3 linked regions of the Homo sapiens genome follow. The protein of the gene in region 1 purifies or fractionates together with the protein of each later gene. This does not show direct contact. Each region holds a gene or a part of one and is shown in the gene's direction. Other genes may lie near its edges. The genes, in order: DAB2IP, ANKS1A and CGN.

Region 1 (11,002 bases):
CCAGGGCTCCTGTGGGCAGAAGGCAGCAGGCATTCTGGGAGAGGTGGTCCAGGCTCTCGACGGAGAGAGGTGGTCTTGGCGGCTGTATTTGGGTTCCAAGGTGGAACCCACCCTAATCCCCAGCCCCATGTGACCTTGGGTGAGTCGCTCCCTCCCTTGGTCTCACTTCCCCATCTTCAGGAAGGGATGCTGCCCCACCCTGACTGCTCTGTGCTGGGATGAGAGAGCCAACCAGACCCTCAGTGATTGCAGAGTTGATGCCAGATCCCAGTTTGCCATGGGTTAGGGAGGGTCCTCTGGGTAAGCAGCTGATTTTGAGGGCCTCAGCTTCCCCCGTTCATCAGTTTCTCTCAAGGTTCCTTCTACCTCGGACATTCCGGGGCTTTATGACAGGCTGTCGACGTGTACGAGGGAGACGTGCATGTCCTCTTCTCTGGGCTTCTGGAGGACTGGAGGGGACCTGTAGGTGGCCCTTTGGGGAATGGGGAGATTTTTAGATCCTGATGGAATCTCTGGGAGGTGAGCTGAACAGAGCTGTCTCATCTCCATTTAACACGTGGAAACCTGAGACCCAGAGGTATCACACGGTGACCCCCTCTTAGAGTTCCGGCCTGTCCCGAGGGCTCTGCCCTCGGCCCAGCCCTGGGTGACTTGATTGGAAAAACACTCACACTCCCCGAGGCTCTGTCTCTGTGTGTTCAAATGTCCACGCTTGACTGGTCCCCCACTTCCGCCTGTGTTGAGAGGGGCAGAGCCATCCAAGCCTGGGGTCATCTTGTCCCTGACTGCACCGTTTTCTGCAAACGATGTCATTAAATATATCGGTGGCTTTTGGGAGGAAGTCTGGGGGGCGGTGGCAGTGGTGGTCGCCTGGCTAGCCTGGAGTGCTTTAGTGTGACCTCTTGGGGCTTGTCTATGCTTTTCCCTGAATGGGGTGACCTGGCCCCAGCCTCCCCCATCTTCCTAGTGAAGATCCTGCTCCTGGTCCAGCCTTATTCCCGGATGAACAGTGGATGCAGGAAGTCGTCATTGCCTGCCAGACAGGCCACCTCCTGGGGCAGAGGCCATGACCTTAACCACAAGTGTCCCGCCACCCCCCCCACCCCGACCCTCTGTCCCCCCCACCCCCACCCCTGCCCAGAGCTCCAGAGACTGAAAGGTTGAGACTGTCCTGGGAGGCGGATGTGTGCAGGCCTGCCTGGCTGGGGACTTCCCCGGTCACCACCACCCACCCTCATCCCAACAGGAAACCTGACAGGTCTGAGCCTTCCAGACACCCATTGTGTGGGGCCTAGTGTGGGCTCCGATGCTTCCCCTGTCAGGACTCCTGTCGCCCCTAGCCTCCTCCTGTCCCTTGACAAAGCTGGCTATTAAAGAAAGTTCTAGACTGTTTCCACTCCCCCGTCTCTGCATTCCGTACTGCTCAACCTTATGATCGTTGCTCCTTTCAGCCCCCTGGGTTCAAATCCTGCCTCCTAGTGCAAGCCCTGTGACTTTAGGGAACTCACCTACCCTCTCTCTGCCTCTTGACATTTCTTCTGGAAAAAGAAATAACCATCTGCCTCCTAGGATTATTCTGAAATTAAATGAGATGATGTGGGTAGAATGCTGAGAACAGGATCTGGGACAGTGCATGCTAGATGCAGTTCAGCTACCATGATTAGGATTAAACCCAAACTCCACCCTCAAACAAACCTCTTGAGGTCAAACTTGTAACCCTCCTCTGTTAAGAAGCCTTGGGTTTCTGTGGTGCCCCACGCATGAGCATCTCCCCTTCCCTGGGGGAGGCTGGTGTTTGAAGATAACTGGTTGTGGTTGCTGTTATCATCCCCCCTGTACAGAATGGCCCATCAATGAAGGCTGTGCTCTTCTGTTTTGTGCTTAGCTGCAGAAATGGGTGATCTGTCTTAAGATTGGAGGAAACACTATGCTTTATGGGCAATTTAAGGCTTTTCAAAGGTAATTTTGGCAATATGCTTTTTTTTCTCTCTTTTCTCACTGACTTCAACCCTGACACCGCAGAGGGACTCAAGACTGCCTTGGGCTAGCCTCCCTCCCCTGCATCTGGTGCCCCTGCTGACCCACCCTGGCCTGGCCCATGATGTACCTGGACTTTCAGCCCAGCTCTGATGCTACCCACTGCTTCTTTTCCAGCAGGGATGCTGATGGTTTTCTGCCTAGAGGGGAATTTTTTGGGTCCATCCCTCCCTGGTCTTCACAAGTAGCCTCCTGTGTCCCCATTATTCAAACTGACTAGTGGGGTATACCAGGAGCCAGGAGGGGGGTGTCTCTCCTTGGAGTCAGAGTAGACTTTTTTAAGGAGGGGGTGCTTCAATTTGCAATTGCAAAAATGTATATATACACACACATATATATACATAAACACACATATATACGTATATATACCCATATATACACATATATATACATACATATACATATATATTATATATATACATACATATACGTATTATATATATATACGGGTATATATGTATATATATGATGGAATACTACTCCGCCATACAAAGGAATGAATTAATGGCATTCCCAGAAACCTGGATGGGAATTGGAGAATATTATTCTAAGTGAAGTAACTCAGGAAAGGAAAACCAAACATCATATATTCTCACTCATAAGTGGGAGCTAAGCTATGAGGATGCAAAGGCAGAAAAATGACACAATGGACTTTGGGGACTCAGGGAACGGGTGGAAAGGGGGTGAAGGATAAAAGACTACAAATTGGGTTTAGTGTATCCCAAGTTACTGCTCGGGATATGGGTGCACCAAAATCTCACAAATCACCACTGAAGAACTTACTCATGTAACCAAATGCCAACTGTTCCCCAAAAACCTATGGAAATAAAAAATTTAAAAAATAAAAAACTGAGGGGATGCTTGAGCTGGGTCCTGAAGGGTAAGCAGGAATGCACCAGGTGGGTGCAGAGGGAAGACCTTGGTGGCAGCGGTCCAGGTCCCACCAACAGGGCGAAGACTGGTGGTGGGAAAGAGTGTCTGGAGGATGACCAAGGGGGCTGAAATGGGTTGGGGTGCAAGCGGGAGGTGGTCGCTTTTTGACACAGCTTGGTCTCTGAGAGTTCGCCTTGGGAGGCTTTTGAGGGGAGGGTAAAGGTGCTGGTGGTGGGGTTAGGTCAGATCTGATTTAGCCAGTCCTAGTACCCACACCCCTACTTACTAAACTTGCATGTTTCCAGGCCCCATCCAGACCCACTGAATTGAGCGTCTTGAGGGAAACTCAGAAATATGCCTGTTCACTGAGTGAAGGTGATTTGGGGGCTGCAGCCCTGTCCCCGCTAAAGCAGCACATGGGAGAGGTGGGAGCTGGGCCTATTCAGGAGCCCCTCTGGAGGTGGGAGAATAAGACCAGACCTTTAGCCCTGTAGGTACTGAGGCTCTCATGTTGGCAGGGCTGGAAAGTCCGATCTGTTGGTCTGTCACAGGAAGCAGTGGTAGCAATGGTGGTGGTGGGCACTGGAAGCAGGGCTTCTCCTGTTCAGAGAGAGAAAGCCACAGGGGCGCCGGCGGGAGGTGGGAGCAGATGGGGGGCCAGTTTCCCAGCAGGATTGATTCCAGGTCCCCTGCTGGGCTGTACAGGGAGCGGCCTTTAACTGCCCTGTTCCTGGGCCAGGAAGAAGGAAAAGGAGCCTGGGCTCTTTCTCTCCTAGCTCCTGCCCTGCCCCCTTCCCACTCAGTACCCGGAGAGTACCTGCCCCAGGCCCGTGGAGATGCTCGGCTCAGCTGGTTGGCGATGCCCATTCCCATCCCAAGGGTAGAAATGCACAAGCTTCCTCCATTTCACTAGCTGACCCTCCTTCCTCCACAAGGCAGATGGATTGGGGGTCCATACGTTCTCCCTATAGGTAGGGAAACTAAGGCACAGAGAAGGACTTGAAAAGCTGAAGTGGGGAGACCATGCCAGACCTTTGGAGCCCAGCTGTGCTTACAGATGAGGTCCTGAGTTCCAAGTTACTGCCCCCTCTCCCCTCCACACACACTCCTCAGACTTCCTGTTGGGGGCCCAGGCTAAGACCACTTGCCCACACCACTGATAACAGTGAGTTGATTGTGAGCCTCCCGTCCCCTCCAGGGAGGGCTGGAACCTGGCTGATCAGAGGGTTCCTGCTTTGGGAAACAAAATGGGCCAGATGAACTCAGGCCCTGGGAGCAGGACCGTTGCCCCCGTCCTGAGTAGGACTTCCTGGGAGTCCCTCACCCCCAGAACCCGTGGACCTGGCTACGGAGGTTAGTCATGCCTGGAAGTGCCAAGATGTGGACAGGTGGTGCTCAGAACCCCACCTACGTGAGGAGGCACTGAACTGGGTTCTGGCAGTTTGGCCAGAGGAGGATGCATGCTAACAAGGCCCCCAGCTTGCCTGGGGACTGAGTGACTGTGTGTGCGCTCTGTCCAGGGGCTTCTTTTTAGAGACGTTCCTGCACCATGTCTGCTGTTGAAAGGAGATAGGGCAATGCCTCCAAGCTTGTCTGACCTGCAGCCTACCGGCTGCATGTGGCCCAGGATGGCTTTGAATGCTGCCCAACACAAATTCATAAACTTTCTTAAAGCATGATGAGGTTTTTTTGTGTGTGTGGTTTTTTTGTTTGTTTGTTTGTTTTAGCTCATCAGCTATGGTTAGTGTGAGTATATTTTATGTGTGGCCTGACAATTCTTCTTCTTCCAGTGTGGCCCAGGGAAGCCAAAAGATTGGGCACCCCTGGCCTAACCCAAAGGAGGCTAAGGGTGTCCTCTTGGGCACCCTGGTTTTCCATCTTCCTGTGGGATTGGCCAGTATTCAGGGAAGAGGGGACCAGGGCAGCTGATAGCTCTGGACTCCTCAGACTGAGTTTGCTGGAGTAACACCCCTCCTGCCCCTCCCCCCTGGTCAGGGAAGGCGCCTGGCTTCCAGCTGTGAGACAGGCTCCGCAGGACTAGGGACCCTCCCCGCTGGCTGAGAGCGCTAGGGAGGGGGCTTCCCCTGTGAGGTGCAAAACCCGGCCTGGATTTCTGCCCAGACGGCCCCGCCCACTCCAGGGCCCCACCTTCCCCACTGTTCTGGAGGAAGATCCCCTAGCCGGCCTCAGGCACTTGCGGTGACTCACACCCCCCACCCCTAAGTCTGAATGTTGAGAGCCCCAGGCTAAGACCACTTGCCTCTGCCACTTTCCATGTGACTGAGGCAAGACCTCCTTGCCAAGGCCTCAGTTTCCCCCTCTGTACTTCAAAGGAGGCAGCTCAGGCAGGTGTCTTAATAATTTAAACGACGAATATTGCTAAAGAGATAAGGGGCGGGGAGAGAGAGAGATCACTGTGGGCCATGGTTAGGGAAGGGTGGAGGAGCTGGGTCCTGAAAGGGTGGACTTTGGTCGGGTGGAGAAAATAGCCAAGAAGGCAGTCCCTGCTGGCAGCACAGCAAAGAGAAGTGAGAATTAGGGGGAGCAGAGGTGAGGCTGGAGGGGACTTTGGTTGGGGCAAGATTATTTGGGGTCCAAATAACAAGGATGTTTAGACGTATTGCCATTGTGCTCTGGGGAGCCACGGAAAGCTCTTGAGCTGAGGAGTGACTTGGAGAAAGTTTTTCAGCCAATGCAATAGAGGGAGTTGGTACCTTTCCTTCTGCCACCCTGAGTTTCTGGTGCCTACGGTAGGGTAGGGATTGTTCTGCCCTGCCTTCAGTGCTTTGAGTGCTTGAAACAGACACCGTAATTTTAATTACATAAAAATGATACGTGTATCAGACGGGACAACCTTTAAAACGTAAAGAAGAGGCAAGTATCCTGCATCACAGGGGAGTCTTTCAACCTGGCTGGGCCAGGGCCTGCGGAGCAGTGAGGGTCGTTTCTCAGCCCAGCGAGCCTGGGGCAGGAACGGACCCTAATTGAAGGTGACCGTCCCCAAGCATGCGTCCTACCCCGGGCTCCGGAGAGCGCACAAGCAGGTGTGCACCGTCTACCCGCGCTGGCGGGATTGGGTGCCTGGTGCGCCCTCAGGTCGACGGTCGAACCCTCGGGGGCGGGGGTGGGAGCCAGAACCCTCGGGACGACCCGTCTGGGGTCCCGGGGAAACTCCGGGCCGCCTCGCCCCGCCGATTCCAGGCCGGGATTTCTCCCGCACTGACTTTCCGGGCCGGTGCCAGCCCGGCCTCCGGGTCCCCAGCCCCCGCCGCGGGGCCGGCTGCTCGGGGAGCGGGAGGGGGCAGGAGGCGGAGGAGGAGTTTGAGCGACTTTGTGGGGCAGCCAGGGCCTCGGCGGCCGCTCGGGCGAGCGCGGGAGAACGCGTGGGCGCCCGCCGGGCTGTCCGGAGCGGCCGATGGGGCCCGTGTGAGCGCGCCCAGGCCCGGCCCGGTGCCCGGCGGGCGGCAGCATGTCCGCGGGCGGCAGCGCCAGGAAGAGCACCGGGAGGTCCTCCTACTACTACCGGCTGCTGAGGCGGCCCCGGCTGCAGCGACAGAGGAGCCGCTCCCGCAGCCGGACCCGGCCTGCCAGGGGTAGGCGCCACCCCGACCCCTGACCCCTAGACCCTCCTAAGGCCACTAAGCCACCTGATGCCCTGGGATGCTAGGGACCGGGATCCTCCTTCCAGCCATTTGCCGGGGGTTTCCTCATCCGCCCCTTCCTGAGTCTGCCGGACCCCCCATTCCCCCAGCTTCTGCTTAGTCCTCCTCTCGCCGGGGGAAGCCGAGGCTCTAGGGTCTCCTCTTAAGCCAGGGACAGGGAGAGGGGAGCCTGGAATCTTTCTCCGCATCTCAGATCAGACCTCCTACCCCACTGTGCCTCAGTTTACTCAGCAGCCGGGCAATAAAGTAACCCAGGGTGGATCTGAGCTTTCCCACACCTTGCCTTCCCAGCCCAGGCCGCGGACTTCTTTCTTCCCTTTCCAGGAACTTAACGGGCTCCCCACCTCTTGGGTGCTAGGACAAGTGGGTGGACCTCAGGGAAGGAACCGTGACCCCTCGAGCGGGTGGGCGCCAGCTCCTTTGCAAAGTTTCTCTCCATCAAGCTCAGGAGGCAGGACGAGACGGAGGGGGAGGTGCGAGCAGCATTTTCTTTTTCCAGTAACAGGATCCTCGGCTGGAAATGCGTGTGATCCCGGGGGCTGCGTTTGGGCGGGTGGTGGCCGGGACTTCCTTCCCTGGCTGAGTAGGAGGGAGGGAAGCCCCTGGGAGGAGGAGGCCTTCAAAGGGGCTCTGGGGAGGCTGGAGTCCTAGGCAGAGGTTCAGGCCCACCGAGGGTGCCCGTGGGGTGGAAGGGAGGAGAAAGACGGCGCCTTAGCAGGGACCTGGGCCGAGTTGACACCATCAGGTTATCTTGAAAGTGGGAAGCCGGGCCCTGTGCCAACAAATGCCATGCAGGGAATCTGGTAGACCAAGAGGGGCCACATTCCCACCCTGCAGGCTGCCGTTGTGTGACCTGGGCTGAGCTGCCTCTGAACTTCAGTTTTCTTGTCGGTGTGAGGGTAAATGAAGCAGGCAGGTAGTGTTCGGTTGCTTCCACCAGAATGGGGAAGACTTTTCCCACAGTCAGGTCTGAGTAGCACTGTGCAGTCCAGGGCTTCCTCAGGAAGTAGTGAGTTCCCTGTGCACAGAAGGGTTCAAGCTGAGGCTAAGTGTGTGCACAGGTGTGTGCTGGTAGTTCAGTCCTCAAGGGTCTCTCAAAGCCTGCAATCCCCCCACTCCTGCCTTTCCTGAAGTCTTAGTAAGTACAGAATTAACAGTACTAAGTTACTTAGTAAGTACAGAATTAACAGTACTAAGCCTTTAGTACTCCTTGGAGGGAGTACTAAGCCTTTAGTACTCCTTGGAGGGAGTACTAAGCCTTTAGTACTCCTTGGAGGGAGTACTAAGCCTTTAGTACTCCTTGGAGGGAGTACTAAAGACCTGGGGAAGGCTTTATCTCAGTGGTTCAGGTTTTGGTTCTTCTATCTCTGTCCTTCTATTTAATTCTGTACTTGCTAAGACCTGGAGAAAGGCTTAGTACTGTTAATTCTGTACTTACTCCCTTCCCCTGGACTTGGTCTGGGAGACCGGGAATCTGGGCTCAAGCTTTGTGACTTTGGGCAAGTCATTTCCCCTTTCTGAGCTTAGTTTTCCTGGTTGTAAAATGGACCTGCCGTATGTGGAGGATTCAGTGAAGAAACTGAGAAATGGGAGCTTTGAAAATGCCCAGTACTGTTCAGACCACCCTGGGGCCTCTCCTTCTGCACCCACCTCACGTCACCTCACCCACCCGCCCCTCCTTTGCCTCAGAAATGCCCTGTGTGACCTTTTCCTCTTCTCACCTCAGCCCAGTTCCATCCCTGACTGTAATGGGAGTCTCGCTCCTGTTCAGCTGACCTCCTGCTCAGCTGACCAGGCAGGGGATAATCAATGTGTCAGGGGCTGTCACCTGAGCCCCAGCTCCCAGACCCCACATACACAGGATCACTGCTTGTGTCCCAGCTTGAAGGAGCTCACGGCCTGCAGAGCGGGGAGGAGACTGTCTCTGAACAGAAGTTATATCTGGGGAGATCAGGGAGAGCTTCACAGAGGAGGTGACATTTGGATGGGATCTCACAAAATGGATAGGGTTTCCCTTCGCAGAGGGAGTAATTGAGTCAGATCTGGGTTCAAGTCTCAGCTGTGCACACAACTATTCTACAGCCAGTTACCTCTCCAAGCCTCAGTGACCTTGTGTGGTCAATGGGGCTAGCAGTGACAGGGTCATGTGAGGGCCAGAAGCCAGTGCCTGGGACTAAGGCTGCAGCTGAGGGTGAGCTACTGTCTTCTCTCTGGACAGAATGAACAGACTGCGCAGTCAGGGAGAAGGAAAACGGCTTGGGTATTGAGAATAGAGTTCCTCCTGGGTTTGGGGAGGGGAGTGGATTGGGAAGGGGGCTGGGTGAGTGGGTGGGGAAGAGCAGGCAACAGTAGTTTGGATTTGATAAAGGGCCTTGAACTTTGGGAGGCCAAGGCAGGAGGAATCCTTGAGCCCAGGAGTTCAAGACCAGCCTGGGCAACATAGCAAGACCCTGTCTCAATATTGTTTTTGTTTGTTTGTTTGTTTGTTTTTTTAAAAAAAGAAGGCCTGGAGTGATGAGGAGTTAGTTACAGCTGCAGCCAGGGTGTAGGGTGGAGGCTGGAGGCACCCTGTCCTCCTCCTCCTTGGTGGGAGGCAGCTAGGGCAGCCATTGCCCTCCCTCCACTAAAGCCTCAGACGCCTGACTCTACCCCAGAGCCACAACCACCACCTGAGGGCAGGGCCCCACCCAGGGAGAAACTCAGGCTGAGGAAGCCACCCTGTGGCCTTTGAGCCAGTCCCTTCTGACCTTGAACTTCAGCCTCCCCATCCACATGGGGGCTTGGTCCCATGGTGTGGTAGCATCGGACCTCAGAGGAGTGGGTGGTGCCTAGCATCTCAGCCTGGATCAGACTCTTGCCCCCACACCCTTTCTGGCCTCTGGCACTAGCAGGGAAGGAAAATGACCAAGAACTCAGGCTGTGTATTTGTTCAGAAACAGAAAAATGCAAGGAAGAGTTGGTTGCTGCCAGGTTCTGCAGGTGGCCAGGCTGGGGGAAGGGAGCAGGGCTTTGTCCCTGGTAGGGCTGTGAGTGAGGGACAGTATCTGCAGTCTCCCTAGTTTGACCAATAAGGGACTTAGGTTCTTCCCTTTTCTGGGCTTCAGTTTCCCCATCTGAAGGATGGGCAGAGTGAGACCTGCTGTGGTGGGGGGTAGAGCACGAAGCTGGAGGGTAGCTGGAGGTGGGGTAGAAACAGTGACCTTCGGAGGGTGAGGGCCATTTGCATTTTCCCACTGTGTCCCTAACTCCACTTGAAGGCTGGGCATGTCCCATGGATTTGGGGGGATCCTTTCCCCAGAAGGGTATCATCAGCAAGGTGCCTCCCCACCTAGTCACACCAAAATCAAGAAAAGTTTTGTCTCTGACCCCTGTGTTTCCCCAGGGCTGCTAGGAGAAACAGAAATTTTCCTCTAGCCCTGGATAAAGTTCTGACCCATTCATTCAGCCAGTCAGCTCCTCTTAAGCACCTACTATGTGCTGGGCTTCAGCTTGGGTGCAGGGGCACATGGAGATGAATCACATGTGCTCCCAGCCCTTGCCAAGCCCCCAGTCTGTTGGGGAGGCCAGCTTGTTGGGGTGCACTAGGGCACAAGTCTCTTTCTAGGGGACAGAGCAGTGGTTAGTGGGAGGCAGGGGCTGTAGTTCCAGCTCAGCCGCGGACTGGTTGCATGACTGGGCACATCATAGGGCCTCAGTTTCCCCATCTGTCGAGGGGGGTTAATCTTGCTCTCCTGCCTCTTGGAATGCCTATACCCATAGCCATGAGGGGTTTTGATTATGTTGTTCATGTTTTCATCTGAGTTTTTCTAGGGGTCCAGCCACCTGCCAGGCCCTGGCTGGGAGCTGGGGGTTTTGCAGATGTTTTTCTCTTGAGATGGTCAGGTCCTCCTCCGTGCCTGTACACACCCCTCTTGCATGCCTCTGTATCTTGCCCGCGTGGTGGGAGAGGATGGTTTCATACAACTGGTTCCTAACCAAGAGAACAGTTAGGTAAGGACCTGTGTGCCACCATGGGGGGTGGGTAACTTCTCAGGGGACCCTGGCTTTTTTTTTTTTTGAGACGGAGTTTTGCTTTTGTTACCCAGGCTGGAGTGCAATGGCGCGATCTCAGCTCACCGCAACCTCTGCCTCCCGGGTTCAAGCGATTCTCCTGCCTCAGCCTCCCGAGTAGCTGGGATTACAGGCATGCACCACCACACCCGGCTAATTTTGTATTTTCAGTAGAGACGGGGTTTCTCCATGTTGGTCAGGCTGGTCTCGAACTCCCAGCCTCAGGTGATACACCCGCCTCGGCCTCCCAAAGTGCTGGGATTACAGGCATGAGCCACCGTGCCTGGCTGGGACCCTGGCTTTGATAAGGTCTGCAAGAGGCCTCTGGGGCAACAGCTTGGACTTCATGAGTTGGGCGAGCCTGAGAACAGCCCTGAGGT
Region 2 (8,089 bases), on another chromosome or scaffold:
CAGTTGGGCTGGCACCAGAGTCAGGAGGCACTAGCCTGCTCTGCTCGCCCACACCCAGCCGCCTTGCGTAAGGCCCACCCAGCACCCATGGTGCCGAGCTCGGGCCGCACAACTCACTTTAGCTGTCAGCTGCTGGGGCCACTCCTGTGTCCTGTACTTCCCTCCCTCAGGGGTTCAGATCCCCTGTCCGCTCTTTCTCTGTGGCCTCTTGCGTCCTGCACTGCCTCCCCTGCTGGCCCCAGAGCCCTCTGTGCTCTCCTGGCCTCTGAGCTCCTTCTTGGCCCCTTCCTTCTCTGCTTACCCACGTTGTTCCCCAGAACTGCTTTCCCTGCAGCTTCACCTCGGCAGCATTCTCTTCCTCCTGCTCAGCAAAACCACAGCCAGACCAGATTCTGTTCTTCCTGTTCTCTGCCTGCAGCCCCGTGGGGGGCACCGCTGGAGACGCCTCCTCCGCTCCCGGTGCCCGCTCCAGCCCTGGCGGAGGTGGGCCCGTCTCACACTCCTGGCTCACCTTCTCAGGGCATCATTTCCAGGGGTCCTGGATTTACTCAGGACCTGCCTGTCCTGCCTCCCTCCTTGTACGGACCTTGGCTTTGTCCTTTGTCCTCTTCTTGGCCTGTCAGACACAGGATTAGCAGGTGTCCCTCAGGCCCCTCCGGGTGAACTTCAGCTTCACCCCTGCTTGTTTCTCTGACTCTCACTTCTCACTTCTGGCTCTGGGGACTTCCTTTCCCTTTCTACAAGCACAGCCATGAGTTTTAAAGGATTTTTAAACACATTGTCCAGCAATTCCGGTTGCTGTTGAGAGGCTCTGCGCACTGCTGGGAAGGGAGGGCCTCCGTGTTTCCTGAATCTTTTCCTTCCTCTCCATTCCTTCCACCAGTGCCCTGGACAGGGACCCATGATCTCTCACCTGGACCGCAGTGGCCTCCCCCACCCCCTAGCTGCTGCCAGAAGGATCCATTTGGAATGCATTCCTAGGCACGGGCGGGTGCTTCACTGGCTTCCCCGCTGTGAAGATCCCTCCCAGGCCCTGGGCTGGGTCCCAAGGCGTCCCAGGGTCTCGTGGGCGCTGTTCTCTCCTTTGGTCTTTGTGCAGAACAGCCTGGCAGCCTGTGCCCCCCACACAGACTCTGCCATCTCCTCTCTGGTCATTTCCCATCTCCTTTGAGACTCATCTCGGACACCACAGAGACTGTCCTTCCCAAGCCCTGCTCTCAGGCGGTTTGGGTCCCTGCTGTGCCTCTGCTGTGGCTAGCACCTCCCCTCTCCCGCAGTGTGTTTGAATTGCTGGTCTGCCCCCTGCCATCTCCACTCGACCCTTGAACTTGCTAAGGTCACTGGCATCTTCACCCTTGAGTGTGCTGGAGCCAGGCAGCAAGCCCATGTGCTCCTCTGGAGCAAGGAGCAGGTGTCCAATTGCGTGTGTTTCGCAGGAGGAGCACCGTGAGGCCAAGCTGACCCTGCGGCCCCCGAGCCTGGCAGCCCCCTACGCCCCAGTGCAGAGTTGGCAACACCAGCCAGAGAAACTCATCTTCGAGTCCTGTGGTTATGAAGCCAATGTGAGTTGCTCCCACCCTCCCAGCAGGGCCGGCCTCCCTGCTCCTTCTCGGCCAGGCACCTGCGGCCAAGTCCCAGCAGGGACTCCACAAAGCCAGGCCCAGGGCTTTTGAGCTGTTCTCCACTCTCAGCCACTCTTGACAGCTAAGGCGAAGGGGTGGAGGCCTCTGGATCCTTTAGCTAGGGAGTTGAATGGAGGGTCTCTCCAGCTGGGGCAGGAGAGGGGGTGTTGTTATTGAGAGGGGTAACTACTTGATTGTGGGACAGTCCCAAATTGGTTGGGTCACCCCTGCATGGAAACGCAGGATTTCCTAAGCCTGGCCACTGCTCGCCCCCACAGTATCTGGGCTCCATGCTGATCAAAGATCTGCGAGGGACAGAATCCACGCAAGACGCCTGTGCCAAGATGCGGGTAGGGTGCCTGTGTGGGCTGGAGGGCGCTGTGGGACTGGCCAGCAGAAGGCAGCAATGGGGGCAGTAGCTGCAGTTGCCTGGGCCCTGCTGCACTATGTAAGGATGGGAAGGAAGCTGGGACCTGTGGAAGCCCAGGAGGCTTAGCCCTGAGAAGGGGCACTGACAGGGCCACCCCTTGTTTCCTGTAGAAATCTACGGAGCACATGAAGAAGATCCCCACCATCATCCTGTCCATCACATACAAAGGTGTCAAGTTCATCGATGCCTCCAACAAGGTGTGCTGCTTACAGGGACTCTTGGTGGGAGTGGGACCCACATCCCCGTCAGACCCACAGGGCTCCAGGGCAAGCAACCCGGCTGCCCTGTCTCATCTCTTATCTCCCTAGAGGGTCCCCAGTCCTCTTATTACTTCCCACTTTGCTAAGAGGCGTGTCTCTCATCTGCTGGCCTGGGTGCCTGCTGTCAGCCCCGTCCCCGCCCTAGTGATCACTGCTGTTAGCCTCGCCACCTGGGCTCCACTGGCCGCACACCTGCTCACAGGTGTGATTCCCTCCGTGAGCAAAGGACTTTCTCTGTGTGCCACCGTGTGGGATCCCACCTTCCTGACACCCTTCCCACTTTGCCCCCACCCTGGAAGGTGGGAGGGGCTGGGGAGAGCTTGTGGTTGGGTGTGAACATTTTACTGCCTTAGTTGTTGTGGTAAGGGGTGGAGACCCCAAACCAAAATCGGGGACCCCCACCCCCACCAATAAACAAAATGAGAAGATGAAGGGGGGTTTGCTTGATGCTCTAGGCTGGGACAGAGAACAGTGACAATGGTAACAGGCTGGGGCAGGGGGTGCCAGAGGCATGCCTGAGCCTGAGAATTCCAGAACACGGCTTTCCCCAGCAGAACGTCATTGCAGAGCACGAGATCCGGAACATTTCCTGTGCGGCCCAGGACCCGGAGGACCTCTGTACCTTTGCCTACATCACCAAGGACCTGCAGACCAGCCACCACTATTGCCATGTGTTCAGCACCGTGGATGTGGTGGGTGGGGTCCTGGGGCCGGGTGGGGCAGGCTTGGGTTGCAGCCCTGAGGCGTCCAGCCCCATTGCAGGGCACAGATGCGGCGCTGTCCTGGCCCCTGGCCAGTGCCTGGCAAATGTTTGGTTCATGAATGGAGCCCAGCAGCACTCAGGCCGGTCCCCTTTCACAGTGATGAGACTGACGCGCAGAGGGAACAGGGACTGGCCCAGGGCACTAGGGACAGGAGGTTCCAGCTTTTTTTTTTTTTTTTTAAGAGATGGAGTCTCACTATGTTGCCCAGGCTTGCCTTGCACTCCTGGGTTCAGGCAAGTTACCCACCTCAGCCTCCCACGTAACTGGATAATAGGCGTGAGCCACCGCCCCTGACTTTCCAGCTTTTTGGCGAGTGTTTTCTTAGGTCAGGCAAGGCCTTTGTTTCCCCCGGCTCCCTGCCCTAGGTCTCCAACCTCTGGCTGGGCCGCCTCCCAGAAATGCCCTCTACTTCCCTCTTAGGGGCAGTGGTGCCCTCTTTGGCAGATTTTCTTCCCTCAAATTCCTGCTGAGGCTCGGCTCTGGATGCCACTGGGCCGAGGAGAGTTCATTCTCACACAGCTGCCCACAGGGAGCAGACCAGAACTGACAGCCCACAGGCGGGGGTTCCCTCTAACCTGCAACAAAGCATGAGAGTGGCCCCAGGCTGCTTCCTCACCCCGGGAGGAAGTCAGAGGGGTCCAGGTCTCTGCCGCCCTCAGGGATAGCAGCTGCTTCCAGAATCTCTGTGGCTCCTGGAATACAGGCAGCTCTGGGCATCCCCACACTCCTGGGACCTCATCCACCCCAGTCCTCTGTTTGCTCTGGGCCAGTGAAGGTTAGGAGGAACCAGGCTTTGCTGCTTGCTGGCTGTGTGAGCTTGGAAACATCGCATCTGCCTGCTTCCTCATCTGTCTGGAGGGGATATAATGTGGCCCACCTCAGGGGCCACTGTGAGATGGATGAGGTGGTCCACACAGCACAGTCAGTGGCATTTACCTGTTGCTGACTTTTCCCACATACACTCAGTTCTGCTGTAACGCCACACATACGCTCCTAACAATCACTGTGCTGTGTAAAATCACACAAGGAAAACCACAGGGTTTATGGGGAAATGGAGTTAGGGGCACAGCACTCACAGACTTTGTCGGTGACACATTAAAAATAAAAGCACTAGCACCACTTACATTAAATGGTAAGAAATACCCAAGTACTGCTGCAGGCACGGCACCCTGCCTTGGAAAAGACCTGCCGTAGGCTTACAGCAGTGTGCACCTGCCCTCCCCGCAGCCCAGCTCCCGGCCACATCCTGTGTAGAGCGGGAAGAACAACAGAGACCTAGGAAGAGTAAAGGAGGGAAAGGAGGGAAGAGTGGAAGGAGGTAGGAGCGCTCCCGGGTAGACTTAGAGGGGGACACATGGTCCCTGCGAGGAAGGGCATATCCAGTGTGAAGCGGCTCCTGAACCAGGTGCTTAAGTGGTGATCTGCTTCCTCCCAGAACCTGACCTACGAGATCATCCTGACGCTGGGGCAGGCCTTCGAAGTGGCCTATCAGTTGGCCCTGCAGGCCCAGAAGTCCAGGGCGACGGGCGCCTCTGCAGCTGAGATGATTGAAACAAAATCTTCCAAACCGGTGCCTAAGCCTCGGGTCGGCGTGAGGAAATCCGCAGTACGTGGGCCCCACTGGCCAAGATCCCCCTCTCCCTGGCCCCAGGGATTCAAGGGCTCAGGGTGGTCAGCGTGAGGAGGGTCTTCTGGCACTTCCAGAAAGCTGGCCCTCCAGGGAAATGACCCTCTTAATTGTCCCCCAACCCTGCCAGGTCTCGCCCCTGGAAAGGCAGCAGCTCCTCTGGCCTGGGCGGGCCTCTCATGCTCCTGTTTCCCTCCCTCGCTGGGCTCCCCCAAGGGCAAGGCCGTCAAGGGGCTGCAGAGAGCGGCCTGCAGGCAGCCCCCAGTAACTGCGCCATCCCTGTGTCTGTGTCTGCTTTGCTCTGCACCCCAGGTGCCGCTGCCCCCCGATAGTCGCTGTTGTTACTGTCACACCTGCACCACCCACCGTCCTTCCTACCTACCGCTGCCATCTGTTAGTCCTGGAGTCAAGGTCTTTACGCCTCCTGCTGTCTTGTGTGTCAGTCTCCCCGAAGTGACCGTGAGCGCTCTTAGCCTCTGGCGGCCTCTCCCTCTGCCTGTGTGACATTCTTTCCCCTCTTCCTGAGATGCCCTCTGCCTGTTCTGTGTGTGCTTCAGCCCTCTCTGTTTTTCTGTTGTGTGTCCTCTCTCCAGAGGTCTGGGGTGACTGCTGTGGTCTTGCCTTGGGGTGAGCTCTCTGGGCCTACCAGAGAGACCCGAGGCTGGACATTTGCAAGCCCCATATCCCCTTCCTGCCCAGTGTGAGTGGGTCTGGGGCTTAGAGCAGGAGGCCCGCCTAGGACAGGGGTCCTTTAACTGAGCAATCCCAAGAAATCCCGGAGAGAAGCTGTGCCTGGAGGTGGCCCTCCCCAAGATGCTCCAGGAGGGTGTCCCTCCTCCGCCTGCCCCCAGGGGCCTGCTCTTTGGCCGAGGAGAATAAGGGCTGCCCCTCCCAGCACAGGGGCCACAGCCTGGCCTGGGGGTGGGAGGGGCCTGCTGCCTCCAGCCCTGGCACAGAGCTCCCTCTGACTCTTGACTGCTTCCTTGTTTGGCAGCTGGAACCACCTGATATGGACCAAGATGCCCAATCCCATGCCAGTGTCTCCTGGGTTGTGGACCCCAAACCAGACTCTAAGCGGAGCCTCAGCACCAAGTATGAGACCACTATCTTCTAAAACAACCCACTCCCTGTCTCCACTAGTCTCACTGTGCCTTTGCCATCCGATCTTTCTGCTGTCCTCAACTCTCTCCTTCCAGCTGCTGATGCCAAGGCCCCACCTGCACTGGGACCTGCTCCTCTTGGGCGGGCGGCAGCGTAGACGCTGTACACTTGCAGCTCTCGCACCTACCACCACCGAACACTGTGAATTCTCCCCCTTGGGCTGAGGACAGCTTGAGGGGGTGAGTTGCCTTTGAGGTGGGCATCAAGAGGGCTCAGGGGTTCTGTTGCACCCTGGAAGCCTCCACGGGCAGGCACTGTGAACCCCGACGGGCAGGGCAGTCTCCAGCAGGATCCCAACGGCACTGATAGCTCCCCAGGGTTGGGCTGGGCTCTGTGTGGCTCCCTCCTCCTGTCTGCTGTACTGAGCCACAGCTGGGCACCGTTGCCAAGAGCTAGCTGACTGTTCTCACCTCTCCTGAACCAACCAACCACTGTGACCACCCAGTGCCAGAGTCCCCAGCACTCTGCTCACAGCCGGCCTGCAGCCCCACCCCACTGTCCTCCGCTACTCCGAGGTGCTGGCCTCACTCTCATGGCTAGGCCCTTGTGAGACCTTGAGCTCAGTGATGTGGCTGGACCAGGGACAGACTGCTTTCTGTGAGGGCCCAAGATATGCGCCAGGCCCTTGGGTCCGTGCTGACTGCCCCACTTGGGGCTCTGGGTATCTGAACACTCACAGGCTGGCTCACACAGCAGGTGTCTCAGTCCTGATGGGCCTTCCCCTCCAAGGAGGTGGGTGGCATGTGTGTGGACAGCCCCTCTATCTTCGCCATGGAGTCTCAAGGCCTGGCAGCCTTGGGCCTGGCTCTGGAGTCTAGCTCACTGAGGAGGAAGGCCTTCCGTAGAACCAACGAGGAGGCGGCCTGTGCCCTGCACACACGGCGCACCTTCTTCCCTCACAGAACAGAGCTGCTGGAGGACAGGGACCTGGACCAAGTGGCCTCCATTGTCCTCTGGGAGCTTTCTGACACTCTCCACGGTGGGGGATCACAGATAGACAGCGCCGTCCAGCATGCCCCTGACCACCTCCCTCAGCCTCCTGACTCCTCCGAAAGGAGAGGCCGTCCCATCGCAGCAGCTCAGAAGCTGGGATGGTGGAGCTGAGTCTTTGAAGAGGCACCCCATTCTCCAGTGTGGGCAAATCAGTTTGGATGGCAGGAGACAGGAAGGAAGCGGCGCCCATAGGCAGCCGTGCACACATAGCAGAGTCCACTAGGAAAGCCAGTCGGCCAGGGCAGTCAAAACCCAAGTCGATAAACTGGGTGGGTCCTGCGTACCCACCCATCCTTGTGCCTTCCTGAGCAGAGTCACTGAGCCAGAGGCAGTGGGGGCTGCAGGCTGTGGGTGCTCAAAGCAGGCATGGAGGGTGCCCCGGGGAGGCTGTGAGGGATCGTCTGTCCTGCTCTGTGTTTCCTTTCCATTTCCTCCACCGTCCGCAGGCCCCATTGGTTAACCCTTTCCTCCCCCCATTGTTTGCTTCTGCCAAGCTGAGCCACTGAGGAACCACACTGTGCTGCGGAAACATAGACGTGGGGGCATAGGCTCCCACTGCCACCACCGCCATCGCCTCACCTGCAGCTCTGAAGACCCAGGCCTCACCTCCGCCTGCAGGACCTCCTCTTGGCCACTTGGCCTGGGCCTGCCACCACCACGTCCTGCAGAACGAGCCCTGCCTTGGCTGTGGAGAAGCACTCCAGGCCGCTAGCAGATGGGACTGGCATTCCAGAGGGTCAAGAAGTGACTTGTTCAGAACACATTGTTTTTAACAGAAAAAAAATCTTTTTATAAAATGAACTTTTAACACTTGGCTCAAACCTCTAGGTCATACTGCCAATCTTTAGACAAATGGCCATGGGGCAGAGGACAGGGGAGCTGAGGTTGGTTCAGAGGCCAGCCTGCATAGCCTCTGTCCTCAGGACGGAACTTGGGTGCAGCTCAGTGGGTCGGAAGAGAAGGCGGTGGCCTGTGGGTGAGGGGAACGGAGCAGGCTCAGGCAGAATTGAGTACGGTGCGTCTGCTTTTCAAACCCAACCATATCAGCTGCTGCTCTTTATGAACTGCCCAACTTCCTGTCCCTTTCAGGGGCTAGACACAGGCTTCTCGTAAGAACACAGCCTTAGAGGCACCTGAGCAACTCAAAGGTTTCCGGTCCATTTCTGGGGTTCCCGATGGGAAGGTTCAGTGGCCAAATGAAGATAAGTGTGCAGTTTCTAGTGCTGGGAAGT
Region 3 (10,237 bases), on another chromosome or scaffold:
ACTCTAGCATGTTAACTACCATTAGTGACAAATCACTTGTGGCACAGTTTGCAGCTGGTTGAGATGTTTGTTGAGGAAAATCTGGTTTACAGCAACAGTGCAGAGGTGCATCCTGTGTTGGCCTCTCCCTGGCCTGTTGCTCAGGCCTCCACAGCATGTTTTCCTTGCTGCATTTCAGGATTGTTCATCATGCTTGAAGGGACTTGACCTGAGACTGCCACTTCTCCTCCATCTGAACCCCACGCATGCTTCTGGCCTAATCTTCCTATTTCTTTCTTTCTTTCTTTTTTTTTTCTTTTTCTTTTTTTTTAACAGTTCAAATCAACTCCAGACCTCCTTCGAGACCAGCAGGAGGCAGCCCCACCAGGCAGTGTGGACCATATGAAGGCCACCATCTATGGCATCCTGAGGGAGGGGTGAGTGGGGGCCCCCCCAACAACAGAGGCATACCCCTCCTTCTTTTTCTTCTAGCTTTGTTTCCCATCTTCCCTGATTTTACCCTTTCCTGATCTCTGCTACCTCTTTCCTCCCCTAACCCTTGCTTCTATCCTTTTATCCTCTAGAAGCTCAGAAAGTGAAACCTCTGTGAGGAGGAAGGTTAGTTTGGTGCTGGAGAAGATGCAGCCTCTAGTGGTGAGTGGCCTTCTCTGGATGGGAGCAAGGGTCAAGGTTAGAGCTTTGAGGGCCTCAGGGGATCCAGACTTGGACTCACTCCCTTCCCCCACACCCCCCATATCTCTGGCAGATGGTTTCTTCTGGTTCTACTAAGGCCGTGGCAGGGCAGGGTGAGCTTACCCGAAAAGTGGAGGAGCTACAGCGAAAGCTGGATGAAGAGGTGAAGGTAAGGAAAGGTTAGAGGTGCCGGAGGCATGAAGGAAAACAGGGAAAAAGCCTTGGCCTGGAGATGGGCTGAGCTGACCCTTCTAAGCAATGGAACAAGCATGTTTGTGTCTTATGAGACAAGAGACAAGAATGTGTACTAATTCCAGGAAGGACTTCTGGGGTTCTGTGGGGGTTAGGGAGGCAGAGCACATTAGGAATCTACCTACCTTCCATTCCACTCCCTTTGGGAGTTCCCATCCTGGCTCTGCCCCTTACTAGCTATATAAAACTTAAGAAAATTACTTACATTCTCTGTGCCTCAATTTTTTTTTATCATTATCATAATAATGGCAATAGTAGTAGCTATCATTTATTGAGTATAATTTTGGTAGTATGTACTGTCCTGGGTACTGTAATCATTATAGTTACCCTGTGAATACCTATTCTGGACCCTTTTCTGATGAGAAAACTGAAGATCAGAGAGGCTAAGTAAATTGCCTATGGTAGTAAGTTGCAGAGAGGAATGAAAAAATCCGGGTCAGTCTTATTCTAAAGCCAGTGTACCCTTTTTAAAAACATGTCTTCTGCCTTTCATCATATTGGTTTGTGTGTAGTTGGTGCTCAATAAATGTTGGATTGTAACTTCCCTTGTCTTTTGGAAATCACTGTAGTGTAATGATTAAGTGATTGGCTGTGGAGCCAAACTAACTGGGTTCAAATCCTGGTTCTGTTACTTGTTGGCTGTGTAACTGACCTTGGGCAAGTTCTTTAAATGTTCTAAGCCTCTGTTTCCTAAATTGTAAAGTGGGGATTATGATAGTACTATATTAATTAACTATTGCTGTGTAACAAATTACCCAAAACTCAATAGCTTTAAACAAACATTTCCCAGCCGGGCGCAGTGGCTCACACCTGTAATCCTTTGGGAGGCTGAGGCAGGCAGATCACCTGAGGTTGGGAGTTTGAGACCAGCCTGACCAACATGGAGAAATCCTGTCTCTACTAAAAATACAAAATTAGCCTGGTATGGTGGCACATGCCTGTAATCCCAGCTACTTGGGAGGCTGAGGCAGGAGAATTACTTGCACCCGGGAGGTGGAGGTTGTGGTGAGCTGAGATCCTGCCATTGCACTCCAGCCTGGGCAACAAGAGTGAAACTCTTTCTCAAAAAAAAAGCATTTCCCAGAGTCTGAGGATGAAGAACCTGGGATCAGCTTAACAGGGTAATTGTGGCTCTGAGCCTGTTATAAGGTTCCAGTCCAGCTTCTGGCTGTGGCCAAAAGAAGTAAATTGGAGGATCTGCTTCTAAAATGGCTTACTCAGGGCCAGGCATGGTGGCTTACGCCTATAATCCCAGCACTTTGGGAGGGCAAGGTGGGAGGACCACTTGAACCCAGGAGTTTGAGACCAGCCTGGGCAACATAGTGAGAACCCGCCTCTACAAAAAATTAGCCAGATGTGATGGCATGTGCCTGTAGTTCCAGCTACTTAGGAGACTGAAGTGGGAGGATTTTTTGAGCCCAGGAGGTTAAGACTGCAGTGAGCTGTGATTGCACTGCTGCACTCCAGCCTGGGTGCCAGAGCAAGACCCTGTCTCAAAAAAATATAAATAAGTGAATGAAGCAAACAAAACCAGTTTAATGAATAAGATAGACAAAACCAGCTTAATTGGCTGGGTGCAATGGCTCACACCCATAATCCCAGCCCTTTGGGAGGCTGAGGTGGGTGGATCACCTGAGGTCAGGAGTTTGAGACCAGCCTGGCCAACATGGTGAAACCCTGTCTCTACTGAAAATACAAAAATTAGTTGGGCATGGTGGCAGGCATCTGTAATCCCTGCTGCTTGGGAGGCTGAGGCAGGGAGACTTGCTTGAACCTGGGAGGCAGAGGTTGCCATGAGCCGAGATTGCGCCACTGCACTCCAGCTTGGGCAACAGAGCGAGACTCCATCTCAAAAAACAAACAAACAAAAAAAACAAAAAACCAGGCCGGGCGCTGTGGGAGGCTGAGGTGGACAGATTACCTGAGGTCGGGAGTTTGAGACCAGCCTGACCAACATGGAGAAACCCTGTCTCTACTAATAATACAAAAATTAGCCAGGTGAGGTGATGCATGCCTGTAATCCCAGCTACTTAGGAGGCTGAGGCACGAGAATTGCTTGAACCCGGGAGGTGGAGGTTGCGGTGAGCTGAGATCTCGCCATTGCACTCCAGCCTAGGCAAGAGCAAAACTCCATCTCAAAACAAAACACCAAGAAAAAAAAAAAATCAATAAAAATAATAAAAACCCAGCTTAATCAAATGGCTGTTGGTTGTAAACCTCAGTTCCTGGCTGTTTGGCCTTCCTCACAGAGCTACTTTTGAGTATCCTCACAATATAACAGCTATTTTTTTCCCAGAGTGAGGGATCCAAGAGAAAAGCTGCAATGCCTTTTTATGACCTAACATCAGAATTTACTCATCACGTCCTCCTTTTTCTGTTTGTTAGAAGGAAGCCCCTAAGTCAAGCCCGTGCTCGAGGCAAACAGAATTAGGCTTTATCTTTTGAAAGAAATGTCAGATAATTTGTGAACATATTTTACATCATCACAAGTACCAAGGCTAGTTATGAGGATTAGATGTGGATAATACACATAAGGTCCTAAGTATAGTGTCTATCATACAGCAAGTGTCCAATGAGTGTTAGACATTCCCATTATTCTGAGTCTTTCTGAGAGGCTTTCCCTACCCTCTACCTGCTGTACTCTCATTCCCTTTTACAGAAGCGGCAGAAGCTAGAGCCATCCCAAGTTGGGCTGGAGCGGCAGCTGGAGGAGAAAACAGAAGAGTGCAGCCGACTGCAGGAGCTGCTGGAGAGGAGGAAGGGGGAGGCCCAGCAGAGCAACAAGGAGTGAGTGCAGCTGGTGGCGCACCTCGGGCTGCTTGGGGGCCTAGGCCAGGTTTAGAGGCCACTCCCTCTTTGCCCCTAGGGTTGAAGGAGACAGAAGGAAATCTCCAGAAGCTGAAAGGGGCAGTGTTGGTTTAAGGACAGGATAGGGCCTTTCTCTCTACCTTCTTTATCAATAATGGTGGTAGTGCATGATTTGGAGTTAAGCTACCTGGGTTTGCCTCTGTCTCAGATTCTTAAGCTATAAAATAGACTTAATAATAGTACCTACCTCACAGGATCATTGTAAGGATTCAGTCATCCATTCAGCAGATGTTTCATCAAGAATGCTGTGACAGGCATTAATCTAGGTTCCCAAGACACATCAGTGAACCCTATAGATGAAGGGCTCGCTCTCCAGAAGCTTAGTTTCTACTGAGAGGGAACAGACAGTAAACAAACATATTTTGCAAGTAAATTTGTAACACACGAGAAGGCAGTAAATACAACAGGGTAAGGCAGATCAGGAGGGCCAGGTTGTAGCGGGGCAGGTTGCAAAAATCAGGGGAGGCCTCATCAAGATTTGAAGGAAGGAAGTTTAAATGCATTAATAAATATGAATTAAAATATATGATGCGTTTAGAGAACTGCCTGACACATAGTGTGCAATAATGTTATCTATTATTAGGCTCCAGAACATGAAGCGCCTCTTGGACCAGGGTGAAGATTTACGACATGGGCTGGAGACCCAGGTGATGGAGCTGCAGAACAAGCTGAAACATGTCCAGGGTCCTGAGCCTGCTAAGGAGGTGTTACTGAAGGTAGGGTCTGGGGTCATATGCCCCAGCCTCTGCTTTTTCTCAGTTGGAGCATCCTCAAGTCTGCTCATCCATGGTTTCCCCAAAGTATGAGGAGTGGGTGGCTGATTACAGGTACTCAGTGTGCTTTCAGGTAGATTCAATGGTGTGTTGGGACTAGAGTTAGGATAAAGGAAACCTATCATTCTGGGCTCCAGTACTGGTACTAGAGCACCTGGTACTGTGCCTAATACGATAAATATTTTTTGACTCAGTGAATTGATAAACAGATGGATTCTAATATGGTCACCCCTGTACTTCTTCCTTTATTTTCTCCAGGACCTGTTAGAGACCCGGGAACTTCTGGAAGAGGTCTTGGAGGGGAAACAGCGAGTAGAGGAGCAGCTGAGGCTGCGGGAGCGGGAGTTGACAGCCCTGAAGGGGGCCCTGAAAGAGGAGGTAGCCTCCCGTGACCAGGAGGTGGAACATGTCCGGCAGCAGTACCAGCGAGACACAGAGCAGCTCCGCAGGAGCATGCAAGATGCAACCCAGGCATGTGACAAGAGCAGGGTCTGAGAGAGGAGGGCACTGCTGGAGAACAAGGCTGCCTTGGGATCTTGGACTTTTGGACTTTTCATGGTTGCAACTGGGAACTCCCCCTCTCCTCCTAAAGGACACAGTGAGATCTGCTGAAAACCTTGGGCAGGAAAACTATAGGGGCAGAGGGAGGGAGTACAGGCCAGAAGTACCTTGAGGTTGTGTGACAAAAGTCCCAAGGGGGACTGGGTGCGGTAGCTCATGCATGTAATCCCAGCACTTTGGGAGGCTGAGGCGGGTGGACTGCTTGAGCTCAGGAAGTTAGAGACCAGCCTGGGTAACATGGAGAAACCCCATCTCTGCCAAAAATACAAAAACTTAGCTGGGTGTAGTGATGCGTACTTGTAGTCCTAGCTACTTGGGAGGCTAAGGCAGGAGAATCGCTTGAACCAAGGAAGCGGAGGTTGCAGTGAGCCGAGATCATGCCATTGCACTTCACCCTGGGCAACACAGCGAGACTCTGTCCCCCTAAAAATAAAAAGTCCCAAGGGGAAATAACTGGGGAGGTTTCCTGTAGATGATAGAGGGGTGGACTGTGACTTGAGGAGAGAATCTCTGCTAGCATTGTACCAGGTACCACAAGAGTGTCAGGGGGTGCACCTGGCATGGTGCCCTCTGGGTCTAAGCCTTTCCTTGTACACACTCACACTTTGATTTGAAGTGACCTCTTCCCTCTGAGCCTTCTGGTGTCCAACTCTCCCCTTCTCTAGGACCATGCAGTGCTGGAGGCCGAGAGGCAGAAGATGTCAGCCCTTGTGCGAGGGCTGCAGAGGGAGCTGGAGGAGACTTCAGAGGAGACAGGGCATTGGCAGAGTATGTTCCAGAAGAACAAGGAGGATCTTAGAGCCACCAAGCAGGAGTAAGGACATTGGCCCTCTCAGAAATACCCATGATTCATATGCCACTTCCTTTCTTTTTTTTAATTTTTAATTTTAATTTTAATTTTAATTTATTTTTTGGGACAGAGTTTCGCTCTTGTTTCCCAGGCTGGAGTGTCATGGCACGATCTTGGCTCACTGCAACCTCTGCCTCCTGAGTTGAACAGATTCTCCTGCCTCAGCCTCCCAAGTAGCTGGGATTACAGGCGCATGCCACTACGCCCAGCTAATTTTTGTATTTTTAGTAGAGATGAGGTTTTACCATGTTGGCCAGGCCAGTCTCGAACTCCTGACCTCAGGTGATCTGTCCACCTTGCCTCCCAAAGCACTGGGATTACGGGTGTGAGCCGCTGCGCCTGGCCCCCTTTCTCCTTTTTTTTTTTTTTTGAGATGGAGTCACACTCTGTTGCCCAGGCTAGAGTGCAGTGGTGCAGTCTTGGCTCACTGCAGCCTCCGCCTCCTGGGTTCAAGCGATTCTCCTGCCTCAGCCTCCCGAGTAGCTGGGATTATAGGCGCCTGCCACTAGGCCTGGGTTTTTTGTATTTTTAGTAGAGACGGGGTTTCACCATATTGGCCAGGCTGGTCTTGAACTCCTGACTTCGTGATCCTCCCACCTCGGCCCCCCAAAACGCTGGGATTACAGGCGTGAGCCACTGCACCCAGTCCCTTTCTTCTTTTTTTTGAGACAGGGTCTTGCTCTGTTGCCCAGGCTGGAGTGCAGTGGCACAGTCTGGGCTCACTGCAACCTCCACCTCCTGGGCTCAAGCCATCCTCCCACCTCAGCCTCCCGAATAGGTGGGACTATAGGCATGCACCACCACACTTGGCTAATTTTTGTATTTTTTGTAGAGACGGGGTTTCATTATGTTGCCCAGGCTGGTCTTGAACTCCTGGGCTCAAGTGATCCATCTGCCTTGGCCTCCCAAATTGCTGGGATTACAGGCATGAGCCACCATGCCTGGCCCACTTCCTTTCTATCTATGGTATGCTCTTACTCTCCCATTTCTCAAACTGCTCTTTTCCACGTTCACCTTCCTTCCTCTTGAGAGTTGGTGCCCAGCGTGTTGGCCTCCAGAGAGGTGGCTTTTATTGTCATGCTAACCTCCCCCAGGCATGTGGCCTTACTCTGTTCCCTTTCCCCTTTATTTCACCTTGCCTGGCTCAGACTCCTGCAGCTGCGAATGGAGAAGGAGGAGATGGAAGAGGAGCTTGGAGAGAAGATAGAGGTCTTGCAGAGGGAATTAGAGCAGGCCCGAGCTAGTGCTGGAGATACTCGCCAGGTTGAGGTGCTCAAGAAGGTATTTGGGAATTGGGGGGCAGAATGGTAGGTAGGGGTGATGAACACCTGCCTTACCTCTCCATGAGGGCCTTCTTGCTAGTGGGGCTATCTCCTGTGTGCTTGGTTTCCAGGCCTCATCCTGCCTGCTCAGCTTGATCTCTTTCCAGCACAGCAGCACCAGTCTCCTCATTGAGCATAGAGGTTTCTAATGGAAAGTGCTCTCAGAACCCAGGTTGGGGTATAGCCAGAGGCTGCTGGCCGACTCCCAAGAGACGTCATGGGTAGCAGCATTTAGGTGGATTTGTGAAACTCCAGGATGATTTTTGCAGGCTCAGAAATCTAATTTGGTCAGCATGGCAAAAGCTGCTTTGTCTTTCAGAGGGGTCTCTAACTACATTTATGAAAAAATGTTTACCATTAGAATTTCAGTTTATTAATTTACATTGAGAAATATCATCACATGGACTGGAATACTTGTGTTGGCATGGCCTGGTTACTAATGTAACAAAACTAATTAGCAAAAGAAAAATAGCAGAGTATATGGTATTACATTGAAGATTCACTACATATTATATAACCCTTTAGCCTAATTATGGTACTTTCTGAATTTCAGAAGTAGCTAATAGCTAATAATTAGAACCAGAACTCCTATTTTAATTTTCTTTTTAAAAGAAATCAGAGCTGTGCCAGCATTTATTGTGTCACACATTTTGGTTTTATACACACACACACACACACACACACACACACGAAAGACAAGTGGCAGCTGCAGGGATTGTGCTGACCTGTTCTGTCAAAGTCTCTCCAGGTTGCTCTTGCATGCAGTTGGAGATCCCATGGCCACACTATATATATATATATATTTTTTTTTTTTTTTTTTTTTTTGAGACGGAGTCTCACTCTGTCACCCAGGGTGGAATGCAGTGGCGTGATCTCGGCTCACTGCAAGCTCCGCCTCCTGGGTTCACGCCGTTCTCCTGCCTCAGCCTCCCGAGTTGCTGGGACTACAGGCGCCCACCACCACGCCCGGCTAATTTTTTTTGTATTTTTACAAAAAAAATACACGTACTCAGTGTTTCACCGTGAAACATGGTTTCACCGTGTTAACCAGGTTGGTCTTGATCTCCTGACCTTGTGATCCGCCCTCCTTGGCCTCCCAAAGTGCCGGGATTACAGGCGTGAGCCACCGCACCCAGCCTCACACTGTATTTTTTTTAAACAACCAGCCTTACTAGCCATACCTTCATGTACTCTCCCTTCATGGTATTTTTTTTTTTATGGAGTTATATTTTACATGCTATAAAAGTCATCTTTGTGTACAATCCAATGGGTTTTTTTTTTCTTTTTGAGATGGAGTCTTACTCTGCTACCCAAGCTGGAGTGCAGTGGCACAATCTCGGCTCACTGCAACCTCTGCCTTCTGGTTCAAGCCATTCTCCTGCCTCAGCTTCCCAAGCAGCTGGGATTACAGGCACACACCACCACGCCCGGCTAATTTTTGTATTTTTGGTAGAGACAGGGTTTCACCATGTTGTCCAGGCTGGTTTTGAACTCCTGACCTCAGGTGATCCACCCGCCTCAGCCTCCCAAACTGCAGGCATGAGCCACTGGCGCCTGGCCCCCAGTGGTTTTTATTATATTAACAAAGTTGTACAACCATCATCACTATTTAATTACAGAACATTTTCATTACCCCCTCAAAGGCGCCAAACCCATTAGCAATAATTCCCCCCACCCAATGGCAACCACTAATCTACTTTTTGTCTCTGGATTTACCTATTCTGGATATTTAATATAATTGAATCCTATAATATATGGGCCTTAAGGGTCTGGCTTCTTTCACCTAGCATAGTGTTTTCAAGGTTTGTCCATGTGGTAGCAAGTATGAGTACTTCATTCCTTTTTATGGCTGAATAACATTCCACTCTGTGGGTATACCGTGTTTAGTCCAGTCATCAATTCGTGGACATCTGGGTTGTGTATCCATCTGGGCTATAATGAATAATGCTACTATGAACATTCGCGTATAAGTTTTTTTGTGAACACATATTTTCGGTTCTCTTGGGTTACCTAAGAGTGGAATTGCTGGTGATATAAATGGTAAATCTGTGTTTAACTTTTTGAGAAACTGCCAAACTACTTTCCAAAGTGGCCACATCAGTTTTTATTCCCTTGGCAGTGTATGAGAGTTTCAGCTTCTCCACATTCAGGTATCTTAGTCTGGCTCTGGGTGCCCCATCACCATTCCCGTTTCCTTCCAGGAGCTGCTCCGGACACAGGAGGAGCTTAAGGAACTGCAGGCAGAACGGCAGAGCCAGGAGGTGGCTGGGCGACACCGGGACCGGGAGTTGGAGAAGCAGCTGGCGGTCCTGAGGGTCGAGGCTGATCGAGGTCGGGAGCTGGAAGAACAGAACCTCCAGCTACAAAAGACCCTCCAGCAACTGCGACAGGACTGTGAAGAGGCTTCCAAGGCAAGGGGAGTGGGCACAGGGCTTAGGAGGTGGAGGCTGAGGGTGTCTGGAGGGCTGAGGAGCCAGAGGGTGTGGAAAGTTACCTGTCATGGGTATGTACTGACCAGCTCCTGGGTCCTAGGCATGTGGTTCAAAGAAGCCAGGATTTGGCAGGGGGAGGATACCTGTATCTGTGTAGGGGTGGGATTCTCAGAGAAGCGTCTGGCTGGTGGCAGCTGCTCTCTTTAAGCCTCATTCTTATGGGCTGTCTTTGGGATGGCTTTCCTGGGTGTGGTCAATGGCCCCAAGCCCTGGGGTCTGAGCTGCCACGCCCTGGGGTCTGAGCTGCCACCCCCTGAACCGTCCTTAGGCTAAGATGGTGGCCGAGGCAGAGGCAACAGTGCTGGGGCAGCGGCGGGCCGCAGTGGAGACGACGCTTCGGGAGACCCAGGAGGAAAATGACGAATTCCGCCGGCGCATCCTGGGTTTGGAGCAGCAGCTGAAGGAGACTCGAGGTCTGGTGGATGGTGGGGAAGCGGTGGAGGCACG

Evidence for each region.
Region 2: the proteins of DAB2IP (region 1) and ANKS1A purify together in Homo sapiens (affinity purification with mass spectrometry; 2 studies listed by BioGRID and IntAct, with this or other methods). This does not show direct contact.
Region 3: the proteins of DAB2IP (region 1) and CGN purify together in Homo sapiens (affinity purification with mass spectrometry; 2 studies listed by BioGRID and IntAct, with this or other methods). This does not show direct contact.

Annotation. Positions count from the first base shown.
Region 1 is NC_000009.12:121,645,397-121,656,398, forward strand, and holds the start of DAB2IP (disabled homolog 2-interacting protein), read left to right. Parts: upstream 1-6,237; 5' UTR 6,238-6,379; coding exon 6,380-6,503; intron 6,504-11,002. UniProt on the Homo sapiens protein: Functions as a scaffold protein implicated in the regulation of a large spectrum of both general and specialized signaling pathways.
Region 2 is NC_000006.12:35,081,255-35,089,343, forward strand, and holds part of ANKS1A (ankyrin repeat and SAM domain-containing protein 1A), read left to right. Parts: intron 1-1,436; coding exon 1,437-1,562; intron 1,563-1,900; coding exon 1,901-1,972; intron 1,973-2,162; coding exon 2,163-2,249; intron 2,250-2,863; coding exon of another isoform or gene 2,864-2,866; coding exon 2,867-3,004; intron 3,005-4,511; coding exon 4,512-4,682; intron 4,683-5,697; coding exon 5,698-5,795; coding exon of another isoform or gene 5,796-5,817; exon of another isoform or gene 5,818-7,345; intron 7,346-7,351; coding exon 7,352-7,355; 3' UTR 7,356-8,089. UniProt on the Homo sapiens protein: Regulator of different signaling pathways. Regulates EPHA8 receptor tyrosine kinase signaling to control cell migration and neurite retraction.
Region 3 is NC_000001.11:151,519,851-151,530,087, forward strand, and holds part of CGN (cingulin), read left to right. Parts: intron 1-315; coding exon 316-416; intron 417-563; coding exon 564-633; intron 634-745; coding exon 746-841; intron 842-3,583; coding exon 3,584-3,711; intron 3,712-4,375; coding exon 4,376-4,508; intron 4,509-4,823; coding exon 4,824-5,036; intron 5,037-5,791; coding exon 5,792-5,940; intron 5,941-7,124; coding exon 7,125-7,257; intron 7,258-7,980; exon of another isoform or gene 7,981-8,088; intron 8,089-9,499; coding exon 9,500-9,709; exon of another isoform or gene 9,710-9,714; intron 9,715-10,058; coding exon 10,059-10,237. UniProt on the Homo sapiens protein: Probably plays a role in the formation and regulation of the tight junction (TJ) paracellular permeability barrier.